2 linked regions of the Homo sapiens genome follow. The protein of the gene in region 1 interacts with the protein of each later gene in a pairwise test. Each region holds a gene or a part of one and is shown on either strand. Other genes may lie near its edges.

Region 1 (6,863 bases):
ATGAAAAGAACAGTGACTGTTAAAAAAAAAAAAAAAAAAAAAAAAAAAAAAAGAACCAGAATATTAAAAATTGTACTCGAGTTATTTAAATACTTCTGTCAAAAACATCCCAACCAGTGGTTTACTCAAGTTCAAATCATGCAACAATGCTGACTCCTCCTTTCTTTCTCCTTACACCTAATTGCCAAAAAGACCCTATTCAATTTCCCAGTACTGCCCATATTCTTTCCTATTTCCACTGTAATCTATCTAGCATAAGCCTTTACTACCTCTTGCTGGAGTACTGTAAAGTCTTCTTAATTCTAGTATTTTACTCTTCCCAAGAAACAACATTTTTTATTTTGTATTATGGTTATTTCTATACCTTACTTTGCCCTGTACAACCCTTCTCTAGAGTATTTTATTCATTTGGTACCTTCAGTTACCATTTGCAAAGTAAGACTTGAAAAAAAAGTTTGATTGCTTCATTATGAGTAGAATGATCTGAAAAATTATGATGGTGAACAATCACTTCATTTAAAGCTGATTTGTCAAGAACAAAACTCTCAATCAAAAGAAAACTTTCTCAAATGAAAATTAGCCTAAATTTTCTGAAAAATTATAAGAAAAAAGAGCCAGAAAAGAGACTACAGAACGTGTGGTACTTGGCAGGGAAGGAAATAGAATCAAGGAGATACTCTATCAGTATGTTGTGAAGAAAAATGATATTTACCATTTGGGACTGTCAGTTTTAGGATATACATGAATAAAAGTTGAGAATAAATTTCATAAACTGCCCTAGTAACCACAGCCATCACCTTTCCAAATATTGTTAGTGTCATTGTTTTATAAATATTTGCCAACTTGAATAACTTCAATGCTAACTGGAGGTAAAATTTAAAGGTTGTTTTTTTTTTCCCAATAAAAAATAGAAACTGGGTCTTTTAGTGATTACAGAATAGAATTCTCTCCCTAGCAATCAAGAATATCCTCATTCTGCAGAAAACTTCCTTTTGTGATTAATAAAAGAGGAGAACTGATACTCATTGACTGTCTACTATGAACCATGCACTATCAAAATGTTAACACACAACTCAAAAAGCCATCTTATGACATAGATACTATTGTCCTTGTTTCATTGAATTAAACACAGAGTAAGCACATCCAGTGACTCCATTCAAACCTAGGTATATTTAATTCAAAAGCCAAGAACATCTCATGAACAAGGAACATTCTTAATAATTCAGTGATACTACCACTTCCAAGATAAATTTTCCAACCAGTTGCACTAAAATAGGGAAAATGCGATCAAGCCACACTTTGATTTTATCAATCACACTGACTGGCAGGCAGGAATATCCTTTGAGACCTGTATTTACTTAATGTCCCTATTCATCTAAATGAATATATATTAGCACCTACTATGTTTCAGTCGCTACTTTGGATTTGGAAGCTGGGAAATACTACCAACTCCGCATGGGGAAACTCTGCGTTCACTCCCAGTTGTCATGAGCTTGCCCATAAACTTATCCCTGAGGAATGCAAGAAACTAAGGAGGCAGGACGTCCATCAGTCTTGCTCATTCTGGTATTTATAGGTCTCAGTCAAAGCCGGGCACATAGTAGGTACTCAAATATTTGTTGAATGGAAGGAAACTAACATTCCTTGAGCACTTGAACGCTCAAGACAATGTTCGATCACCTCACTGGAATCCTAAGGACAACCAAAAGAGGTAGGTTTTTCACTACTCCCGTTTAATAGATGAGGTTGACAGACTTAGATTCACTTACCCAGGATTTAAAGGGACTGACCCGAAAGCCCAAGGCTCTCCCTACATCATATCCTACTTAAGAAACCTTTTAATTGTGTGCACATTGCCTCAGTGCGATTTTTGAAATGCCCTCTAGATCACCAATTTGATAAGTATCTTACGCTACTTTACACTTTAGTTGCTTTAAAACACTTTCTAGAACGGAACAATGTTAATATAATCTAATCTTAACATTAAATTTCCTTAAAAATTACAAAGACAAAAATTTGAGGTATATCAGAATGAGATTCAAAACTATGAGGCAATGTATCCTCATTAAGGCTTTTTGAAGAAATGACAACTCTAGGAAATCAAGAATGAGAGCTCTGCCATGTTAACGGAAAAAAAATACAATTAAAAAAAGAATGCTACATTAGAAACTGATAGATCAAATGTATTATATCTTTTCTTGTTGAAATTCTCGGTAAACTGCTAGAGGTCCTTTCAAGTAGCCTCAATACATCACAATTCACAAAACAAGCAAAGCCAAAATCTATGTTCGGTACATACTAAACAGGTGCTGTATTTCTAAAACTCTATTTACGAATCTTTTCATACCAAAATTTGAAAACCATATGATCTAGTACAGTCCAGAATATCCTCAAACTATAACTCTCTGAAGTGGGTTAGAAAATATTACAAAGCTCCCAAAATAAAATTTACCTGAACTCACTTAAATTTGATAAATAAAGGTTTGAGCAGCGGCCCGTAAGAGAAGGGGAAACAGAAGCGGAGTGTGAGAGCTGGTAGTAAAATCGAACATTCTGTGCCATGTCTGGCAACCGAGAGTCAGGCCCTCAAGTATGTGACACCACTGGGGCGGTTCCGAAGGCGGAGTAAGGTCTCCAGAATAACTCAAAAGGAAAGAGTTTCATAACTTAAGTGGTTTCATTTCAGATTACCCACGTGAAATTTGTTGATGAAAAAAAAATCATACCCACTGCACAGATGAGAAAAACAGGAGCGTTTTCAGGTTATACAAGCCGACGCCTGGCGCCCGGCGTGACGTGAAACGCTCTAAGTTGCTGGAGCTGGATACCAGGTGAACTGAGATTTAAATTGTGGAAAAATCGGCCTGGAGAGGTACAAGGCCTGTAGACGGAGGGCAGTAAGGTCACGCAAATTTCCCTGAGGAAGGCGGCTTTGGAGGCTGCGTGCTTTCCGGGCCGGTACCCCACAGCCCAGTCTCCCACGCGTGAGCGGAGCATGGCGAATGCTGCACGCCTGGGTCCCGCTCCCAGTCGCAGTTTCCTCACCCCAGAGGTCACCCTGACCCGGAAACAGTACCCAGAGCAGCTGTCGGGCGTCGAGGGAGGTCTGGTGGAAGGGCGAAAGGAAGGTGGGAGGGCGGGAAGTGCGCGGCTAGGCGGAGGGCCGACGGCGAAGGGCAGACAATGCCCCAGAGGCTAGGGCTGGGGTCGGGATGGGGGTAGGGAGAGGAAAGCCCCTCCCAGGCACGCGCGAACCGCACACACTCACCTGCCCCTCCCCCTCCCCGCCCGCCCGGCGGAGGCTCCGAGCTGCCGCGGGCCGCGCGCGCACACAAGGCGCGCTCACGCGCGCTGCCTGTCTCTTCCTCGAGCTCGCGCTCCGCCCGCTCACTCCCAGCCCCGCTCATTCAAAGCCGGGCGCGCGCTCCGTAGCAGCCTGCGTTGCCTCTGCGCAGCTGCCATGGCCGCCCCTTCATCGGGAAACCCGCCCCCAGCCCCTCCTCTAGCCCCGCCCCCAGCCCTCCTTGAAGGCGGCTCTCGGCTGTCTCCAGGCCCTCGCTTCTGCACTCCGCCTCAGGTCCTGGCTGGCCCAATAGGTGAGAGGCTACGGGTCTGACGTCGAGACTGGGAGCCAATGAGCCCTGGGAGCGGGGCAAGCGGCGACAGGCACGCCAGGTTCGGTGAGGGGTAGCTTTTTGGGACTATTGCGAGCTGCTTTGACTGTTTATTCTCGGAGCGCCTGCTTCTGCCAGATGTCCCTACTTTCCTTCTATGCAGAGTGCCTCCCCTCCAGCAAAGTCCCTTTCTGTTCAACCCACAGAACCCCTGTGTCAGATGCGACCAAGGAAAATACACTGCAACAAATGAGGGATCTCCCTCTGTCTCAGGAAGATTTGGATGTGGCTAGACAGACCCCCTCCCCTCAGTCATTCCGCCACCTCAAAGATGTGGAATGCTGAGTTTAATTCAAGACGTAGCCTCCTCCCAGTAATTTTTAATTGAATTGTGTTGAACTAGAAATGAAGAAGTGGCACTTCACCGTGTCCATGCATTTGTTCCTCACATGCACCCTGGACTTGCCCTTCTTTCAACCTGAGATGTTCTTTCCTTCAGTGCTTCTCTCTTTGCAGCCTGATTCTTCTTTTTATCTTGTATGCTATGAAAGGGGTTGTTATGTGCAGGGGACCCTCAGAATACTATGCTCCACAGTTGCAAAGTGACTGGTGAGGGAGAAGTGAATAGGGTCTAAGGCCAAAATCAGTTTATGCAAATTGTTCTCAACAAGCCTTTTTCTTTATATGCCTTTAATTTTTTTTTTTATTACAGCTGCCTTTGTTCTCCCACCCTGACCCAGCAACCACCTACCCACTTAACTTTGTGATAATCTACCACAACCGTCCTCTTTCCAATTTGCACCACGTTTTTTATTAATAATTTAATTTCCAAGACGGGAAAGATGTGTTTATGGCTCGTGCTCTGGAATGGTTCTGTGTAAAGTTGGGTAAAATTATTTAATCTGTTCACCTCAATTTCCTCATCAGTAAAATGGCCATAATAGTGCCTACTTCATGCAGTAGTAATGCTTGCAAAGCTCTCTTAGCACAGAGCCTGGCACATAGCAAACATTCATAGATAACAGTTGTTGCTGCAGCTACTACTACTACTGCATTACTATTGCATTACTACAGTATCATTTCCGGTAATTGCATTTCCCAAAGGCCATGCAACCCCTTTCAGTCCCTTAAACACCTGCTCTAACTTTAATCTCTAGAATTCTAATGCCTAAATTTCAATATAAAATTTCTAAATTTTTTTTGGATTTAAAAAATCGAGTTATCTAGCTGGGCACGGTAACTCATGCCTGTAATCTCAGCACTTTGGGAGGCCGAGGCAGGAGGAACGCTTGAGCCCAGGAATTTAAGACCAGCCCAGGCAACGGGCGAAACTCCGTTTCTACAAATAATTTAAAAATTAGCCAGGTTTGGTGGCGCATGCCTGTAGTCCCAGCTACTCAGAAGGCTGAGGTGGGAAGAATCACCTGAGCCTGGGAGGTCGAGACTACAGTGAGCCATGATTGGGCCCTGCACTCCAGCCTGGGAGACAGAGCAGGACCCTGACTCAAAAAAAAAAAAAAAAAAAATCCAAAATAACCTATATTCGGATATAAACGTGTTTAAATTTTTTTTCTTAAAGAGTTGATTGCTTTAGACAATTTATTATGCCCAAGGATATTTTCTTCTTTTTCCTGATTCTTCAGTTTTCTTTATTAAATTTGCCATTTCCAAATGAAACAAAACGAAATGTATATACTTTTCCAGAAACAGCTAGTTACTGAGTACTTGTTTCCCAACACAATAGCAAAACAGAAAACAAAGCTCGCTAAAGACTGCAAATTTAAAATTTACTTTAGTAATACCTATAAAATAATATTTTAAAATCATCTTTACTTGTTAAATAGTAAGCCCATAATTGGGATCACAAGTCAATAATTTGGGATTGGGTTTAGGGACCACCTCTTGGGAACAGGGAACTTTAAGTCCTGTCCTCTCCCCAAAGCTTGTGTGGGACGGGGGTAGGAAACCACCAGATGTCAAATGGGAGGAACATAAGGGATAGAACCTGGCATATGAATTTCTTTTACTCAATGGAATATAGTAAATTCTGTCTGCTCTGTGTCCAAACCATTTTGCTCACTTTAACGCTTCTGATCAGCCTCTGCCCAATTACCAGCTTGATTTATTCACACTATCAACCTCCAGCCCACCACTTACTCTCCCCTTTCAAAGCCTACATAGGCTTTGTTCTGACTTCTCCAGCTGGGGCTAACTCTGGCCTTGTCACCTGACCTGGCCCAGGAGGTAGGAGCAGACTGCAAACACAGCCCTCTGCTTCCAGATCTTTCCCAACCCAGTTCCCTGGCTTTTCATCAAAGGGTGGGTTTTTTTTCCCTCAAACACAATTTTAGACCTGCTGTTCTGACTTGGACTTTAATGGCTTTTTATTAATGAGCAGCTGTTCACAGTTGAATACAAGATCATAAAGTCACATTCATTTCTTGATCAAGTAAAACAAAGCTTTGCCGCACATAGAGTGACATCTTTGAGCAGATACATTTGAAAGCATAGGATTTTCTGATGAGAATTTTAATGAATTGTTTTATTAATCTTCCTACTGGAGAATTTTACTTGCTTTCAAAATAATAAACATTAATATTCTGGAAAATTATAACTTCTTTTTTAATACTCAAAATCACCATATACTAGTTAGGGTCAATTGCCTAATAGAGAAATCAAACAGTCTGAAGCAGATTTTTTATTTCTTTTCTATTAAATGAAAATTAACTTTCTATGAAGCATTTAAATAAATTTTTCCTCATAATTGTTATTACAATTAGCAGTAACTTTTATTGCTAAATACAGGAAGATTCAAAATTTAGTAACAATTTAGAGTTAACCAGTTTTCTTCAGAAGGGGCCTGGTTAGAAATCAAGAAAAATAATACATATATTTTAGTAGAAATAAATTCAAATGAAAAGATGAGGTGAATTCTCATTTTGTGTTCAGTGGTGAGGTTCAGCCACATCATACTTCTGGCTAATGTCCACATCGTTATTAGATTTATGACAGAGTTCAGCTATATTATGAATTAAGTAGAGTTGATGGGAACAGCATCTGGCAGTCTAAGACCTTTTGTTATTTCTAACAGTAAATGTATTGAAATTCATACAACCAACATAAAACAGTAGTTTGTAAATCTATCTTGTACATGGATTGAGAAAGTAGAAATAAAACAACATGAAACAATGTGAGACTCATTCATTGAGCTACAGCATGATGGACATCGTGACTTTGACCTTGAACAAC
Region 2 (7,028 bases), on another chromosome or scaffold:
CGTACAATATTTTCAGCAAAGCTAAGAAGAAAAAAATAGAACATCTTGCCTAATAAACATCCTACACAAACATCCTGCCTAATAAAAATAGACGGTAAGAGAGTTCTGACTGCCAAATAATGGAATGTTAACACACGCAGCATCCCAGAGCTCCTTACAGAGTAATTTCAGGTGTAATTTTGTGGCTTTTGCATAAATGTCAGAAGACTAACTGGAAAACTTCTCATCTGGTAACTGCATGGTGAGCGTAACAGATGCTCACATTAAGATATCAATCTCTTGTTTTGAGATGGTCTCGCTCTGTCACCCAGGCTGGAGTGCCGTGGTGCGATCTAGACTCACTCTAGCCTCGACCTCCCCAGGCTCAGGTGATCCTCCTGCCTCGGCCTCTGGCGTAGCTGGGACTATAGGCACGTGTGCCACCATGCCCAATTAGTTTTTGGATTTTTTTTTTTCTGTAGAGACAGGGTGTTGCCATGTTGAAGGAATAAATCTTAAAGATTACAAAGCAATAGTGAGACTTAACCATGCTCGTGATTCCTTTCTGCTGTATGTTAACTTTTTAAAAAGCCTTGGGTGACTATCAAGTCTGCAGTCACTTCCATAACCCAAGAATAAATTCATTGGGGATGACTTGCCACACTCTAGACACCTGGGAACAGTTCACAACTGTCTAATACAAGAATTGTGCCAAACATTTACAGAGAAATCACTGCTGTGTCCACCTGTAACACACCGACAGCATTGCCACTTCAGGGCCAGTGCAAGGATGGCTCCCAATGCAGAAGAAAACCAGGGGGAAACCACAAAGCCTGCTGAAGTTTAGGAAAGGTGACACTCACACCTTGATTCTTTAAATAAACTGATACCTTTTATATTCAGAATTCTTTAAGAATTAACAGGCATGCTAACTAAATATAATACGTAATTTTCCTTTTAATATTAAAGGAAATATTTTTAAATAAAATAGATGCTGCCTATAGAAAGGTCGAAGGATGTTCCTTTCAGTCAATGTTTTTCTCAGCGTTCATCCATGCCCTCGATTCCATAGTAAAATGATGCGTTAGTGTATTTTATAAAGTACCTTTCAGTGTTGCAATTACTCTAAAAGCTAAAACTCAGGAGACAAAACATTACAACTGAGAATTAATCTTCACTGAATTTCTATGACATTTAATGAAGGATCCACTACATGTAAAGAGCTAATGGTCTTAGATCAAAAACAAAAGATTCAGGCTGAGTACAGTGGCTCATGTCTATGTATAATCCCAGCACTTTGGGAGGCTGAGGGCCAGGAATTCGAGACCAGCCTGGGCAATACAGAGAGTTCTCGTCTCTACTAAAAATAATTTTTTTAAAAATTAGCCGAGTGTGCTGGTGCACGTCTGTAGTCCCAGCTACTCGGGAGGCTGAGGTAGGAGGACAGTTTTAGCCCAGGAGGTCGAGGCTGCAGTGAGCCATGATCACGCCACTGCATTCCAGCCTGGGTGACACAGCTAGACCCTGTCTCAAAAACACTTTTAAAAACGGGATAAGAAGGTGACCTTGGTTTAAAAATGAGTTACCGCCCAGCCTGTGCTTGTTCTCAGTAAACACAGTGGCTGGGCACTCGAATCAGCACACAGGCAGATGTATCACTAGATGGCATTATCTGTACTGCGTGGCTGGCAAGCTTTTATTAGTTTTATGTCTATTACAATTAAGCAAATACTATTATTGGTTAATTGCAAAAGTTAATAAGTAAATTAGTTGATGAGTTACTTACTCCCACCCTGGCAGAGAGGCATGCACACTGACGTTATCCACACCATCATTTGCCAACTGACAAGCCAATAATTAGAGCGATTATGGCAACCAGAACCACTGACACAGCAATAATTATCCACTTTTTCTGTCAAAGAAAAGCAAGCTGATTATATCATGCATGGTTAATTTCATATTGCCACATTAAAAGACATCCTTCATTTAAAATAAAACGACCTGGCCAGGTGTGGTGGCTCACGCCTGTAATCTCAGCACTTTGGGAGTCCGAGGCGGATGGATCACCTGAGGTCAGGAGTTTGAGACCAGCCTGGCCAACATGGCGAAACCCTGTCTCTACTAAAAATACAAAAACCAGCCGGGCGTGGGTCTGCAATCCCAGCTACTCAGGAGGCTGTGGCAGGAGAATCACTTGAACCCAGGAGGCAGAGGTTGCAGAGAGCCAGGATCGTGTCACTGCACTCCAGCCTGGGCAACAGAGCAAGACTCCATCTCAAAAAAATAAAATAAAATAAAGCAAAACAACCCATCAGAACTCACTTTAGAAGCTAAGTTACAGGACACTGCTTAATACTGTTGGGCGACTTCTTGAGAGAGTGACTTAATAAGGTCAGACTACTTGGCGATAAGCTGCTATGTAACTGTTATTTCAGGTTTCATCCATGGGGACAGCACGACCAAGTCATTTTGCCACATTTCTGATGACTGAGACATGCAGTTAGTTTTCCGCATGTACAGAGGTGCGGGCCTGCTAGCTCAGTGACGGAGAGCCCCACTGCCTCGTCATGAAGCCCCGACACACTCAGTACTTGGCCTTTCGCTCCTTCTTTTATGTTCTTGGCAGTTACTTCTTCACTGCTCCTGACATAGCACACAGAAAAAAAAAACCCTTCTACAAACGTTGCCTGGCCTCCCTCTGAGGGCCACATGGCTCCGCGGGAATAAATGCAGGACACTAGGAGTGGGGACGACCCACACCTGAGCCAGGGGCAGCAGCAAAGCATTTGAGCGGCAAGGGGACAGGGAGACAAGCCAGGAGGGTTCCATTAGCAGGCATCTCATCAAAAAGACAGTGTCATTTCTGAAACAGGCATCACGTCTCTGACGAGTTTATACGCCAGCTACCGCACAGACCCCAAGCACCTCACAGAGCCAGGCTTGCTCATCCACAGAGGAGAATGAAAACGTATCACACCCACCACCTTCCCCCTTTGTAAAACCAACGAACTTTCACTATCGTTTTCACCAGACTGACGTGTTCAGGTCATGGAGAAAAGGAACAGGACTGCCTGTTTTTAATGAAAGCTGACTTAGGCCTGGAACTAAGTTAAGCACTTTATACAGGTATCTCTTCACCTCAGTTTACATTAGGGGCCAATTTTTTCAAAGCAATAAATGAAATAACATGAGAAACCATGTCTGGCATTTCAGAGATGACGAGCATACTTAGACATACCCAGGAAAAGCGGAGGGTGTGCCCTGGCGGCTGAGCCTGCAGCCCGGGGGTGTGAGTGAGGGTGTGCCCTGGCGGCTGAGCCTGCAGCCCGGGGGTGCGTCTCAGGGCCATCGCCTGGAGGTGCATCCACACACACCGTCTCACTCCATTTTTTCCTAACACGGTGAAAATCAGCATCTCTGTGTATTAGCACAAGGAGGTGACAATGTGAAAAACCCATAATCTCTCCAGTGTCAGGGGCACTATCATAAAATGCCTAAGTTAGGAGAGTAAGTTTTAAATTTTTGCCCCGTAACAAAAAAATCACACAGGGTTCCCTGAACCCTTTTTAATGCAAAGTCTGTGCATCTTGAGTGAAAGGGGTTCCCTTCTTTTGAGGATCCCTTTAAGTGGGTGCTACCTAAGACTGCAGGTCCACGGTCTCAAATAATTCTCTTCTTTCCTCCAAACCAAGAAGTCACGAATAACCTAAATTAAAAATAAATGTTCACTGCATCAAATGTGTAGCCAACAATTTGGTGCCAGGCACCGTGCCTCACGCCTGTAATCCCAGCACTTTGGAAGGCCGAGATGGGCGGATCACTTGAGGTCACGAGTTCAAGACCAGCCTGGCCAACATGGTGAAACCCTCTCTCTACTGAAAATACAAAATTAGCCTGGCATGGTGGCGGGTGCCTGTAATCCCTGCTACTCAGGAGACTGAGGCAGGAGAATCACTTGAACCCGGGAGGTGGAGGTTGCAGTGAGCCAAGATCACTCCATTGCACTCTACTAGCCTGGGCAACAAGAGCGAAACTCCAATTCAAAAAAAAAAAAAAAAAAGTGCTGGGATTACAGGCGTGCCACCACACCCAGCCCTAGGGTTTCAATTACTTAGAACACAAAAGATGAACTACAAATAATTCATCTAATAAACCTTTTAAATTTTTAGCAAAAAAAATTATTTCCATTTTAAAATAAAACATTTATTAATTAATTATTTCTTGGAATACCTTTTAGGCAGGCTTACATCAATGTATTACAACTTGAAACCAAATGAAGAGAAAAACGCAGCTTAATTCTTCGAAGCCAAACTCACCCTTCTTGCCTTGCTCTGATATTTGATAGCTTTTTTTGTTTCTTCTTTAGCGTGTTCTACATAGTCTGTGGCATTCATAACATTTCTTTCTATGTTGTTGATCATTTCACCCTTAAAACAAAAAGTTTCAAACTTAGAAGACATTTTCAAATGGCTTAATCATGTATCTTTAAGACAACCATAGAACAAAGGTTTTATATAAACACGATGTGCATGTAATGGATACTGAGGGTTTTTTTCACATTTACAGAAAGATAAAAGATGAGGCCATTATACATGTGCCAGTGCAAAGCAATCAAAACTCAATTTATATTTTAAAAAGAATGAAAAGGAATGGGCCACCATGTTGATAATTAAAGGCACCTCAAGTCAATTCTGAGATACCTTTAACACGCAGACACTTTCGACAGATGGGCAGGGTGAAGGGAGGCAGCCAGCTTTTGGTTGAACTAGTATTTTACCATTATGCACAGACAGACAATATACAAAGAATGACATCTTTTCCACAAAGTAGAAAATTGTAACTACTTCTTTAAATCAGTAAACTGAGCATAGCTCACATCTGACACTCAGCTGACTACATTAATGAGCAAAATGTAAACAGAGGTGAATTCAGCAAAGTGTGAGGGAGGTAACGTATTACCTGGTTGTCTGTCCAGACACAACCTGCAGCAGTGAATCGTAAAGCATTGAAGAATGACGGAGAGTTAACTCACTCAGTCACAAACTTCAACTTACTAGTAATCTCTGACTATGCACACATTTGCATTAGATGAGTCAATATAATGCAATACCAACAGACTTCTAAAAGGAAACAGTGAAACAAAGCCAGGGATGCAGCCATTTTTCTAACGGAGCTTAATGCAATGCATTTGGTATAGAGCAATTACAATTGAAGTCTAAGGTACTACAAAAGCTTTAGTAATTACAGAAATCATCTCTCGTTCTTTCTGTCCAGCTGGTTTCCTTTGGAATGCTTCCTGGAAATAAGTAACCAATGGTAATCAGACTCCCCACACTCCACTTACCATATAATGAATGGCAACGGGGCCCCCAAAATCAAAAAGGAGTAAGATCGTCCCATCCCTGCCCTCTGTGTAGCTGTTGGTTTCCTCTAGCAAATGCTTATACATACAAACATTAGCCGGGCGTAGTGGTGCAAACCTGTGGTCCCAGCTACTCGGGAGGCTGAGGTAGGAGAACTGCTTGAGCCCAGGAGGCAGAGGTTGCAGTGAGCCAAGATTGTACCACTGCACTCCAACCTGGGCAACAGAGCAAGACCCTGTCTCAAAAAAAAAAAAAAAAATAGGCATGGTGCCTGAGTTTTTCACACACATTCTCATTATAAAGTTCTTCAAAATACAGTGTTTCTTAACAAGGTTGCTGAAGCAGGCAGGAACAATCCTGTGTGTGGATGGATTCCTATCCTTACACAATCCAGGCAGTCTCAGAAAATAAGCCCATCAGATGTGAACCTACTTAGGGGATGACTCCAGCCAAAACAGATCCGAAACCAGGCTCAGGACAAGTGAGGAAACCATTTACTTAGGATGGTTTGATATAAATGCTTCCGCTTCACCTGGTGGTCAGCTGAATCCTAACCAGCAACAGAGTCTTATCTCCATGGTATTTGAAAAATAACGAGAAGACCTTATTCAAAGACAAAGAGCGAGTGTGAACATACCCATGCACATCACAGAGCATGTGATCTGTGATCCATCCCGTACTTTACATGGAGAGTTCAATATATACATACATACATATATATGTGTGTATTTTTTTTTTTTTTTTTTGGAGACAGGGTCTCACTCTGTCACCCAGGCTGGAGTGTAGTGGCATGATCATAGCTCACCACAGCCTTGAACTCATGGGCATAAACAATCCTCCCACCTCAGCCTCCCAGAGGAGTTTTCTATTTATTAAGAATTGCATTAACTCTTCGGTTCACTCAGAAGGGCCTTTCCACACCTGCTTTCACTCCCTATCTGTGTTACTGGGCAGATGGGAAACCCCGTGTAACAGGCACAAGCTTGCATCTGTGTCATAGATTGTATCCCCACTTGGGGTTGATTCTTTCAGACATTTCTCCTAGTTATTACTGTAATATATGCTTCTTATAGAAAATCTGAAAATAAATACTTTTAGAGAAGATTAAAATTCCCATAGTCTCACTGCCATTACACTGTTTGATATACGCCTTTCCTTCTGTGGATACTGTTTTATGGAGCCAAGCTCGTGCCATGTGTTTGTGTTTATGTACTCATACATATGTACGGGCATACACAGAAGATCTTTGTATCTCCCTTTTCTCTTAATTCTAGCACAAACATCTGCATATTTCAGTAAGAATTCTCCATGAACAAAGTTTAGGTTGCCTATGGTTGCCTAAAAGGCTGACCTATGAACACTCCATAATTTAATCAACTGAACCAGTCCCTTCCTGTTAACAGTTCAACTGTTAAAGCTGCTTCCAGCATTTCAGCATCACATATAACACTGCAATTAACCTGAATTTGGTGGATCCAAAATAACAGCTTTCCTAGATACATCCACTAGACAGAGTGGGATGCAGTAAGATTTTACACATGACTGATATCTCTCTTGGAGAATGCAAGAGTCTGTAACTACCTGAGTCTCCACAAACATAGCCATGTCCATGAACATCTCATGCAACTCTCGGATGCTGGTCTCCAGCTTCATGATGTCCTTGTGACGTGACTCGATTTCATTGAG

Evidence for each region.
Region 2: the proteins of EBAG9 (region 1) and STX2 interact in binary tests that used the Homo sapiens proteins (3 or more experiments, as listed by UniProt).

What each region holds. Positions count from the first base shown.
Region 1 is NC_000008.11:109,536,325-109,543,187, reverse strand, and holds the start of EBAG9 (receptor-binding cancer antigen expressed on SiSo cells), read right to left. Parts: upstream 3,016-6,863; 5' UTR 2,727-3,015; exon of another isoform or gene 2,463-2,726; intron 1-2,462. Other genes in the region: EBAG9UORF (uncharacterized protein LOC139907707), read right to left, coding at 3,388-3,462. UniProt on the Homo sapiens protein: May participate in suppression of cell proliferation and induces apoptotic cell death through activation of interleukin-1-beta converting enzyme (ICE)-like proteases.
Region 2 is NC_000012.12:130,794,230-130,801,257, forward strand, and holds part of STX2 (syntaxin-2), read right to left. Parts: coding exon 6,924-7,028; intron 4,962-6,923; exon of another isoform or gene 4,939-4,961; intron 4,407-4,938; coding exon 4,296-4,406; coding exon of another isoform or gene 4,272-4,295; exon of another isoform or gene 4,161-4,271; intron 3,686-4,160; coding exon of another isoform or gene 3,614-3,685; exon of another isoform or gene 3,531-3,613; intron 1,892-3,530; coding exon 1,811-1,891; 3' UTR 1,766-1,810; intron 1-1,765.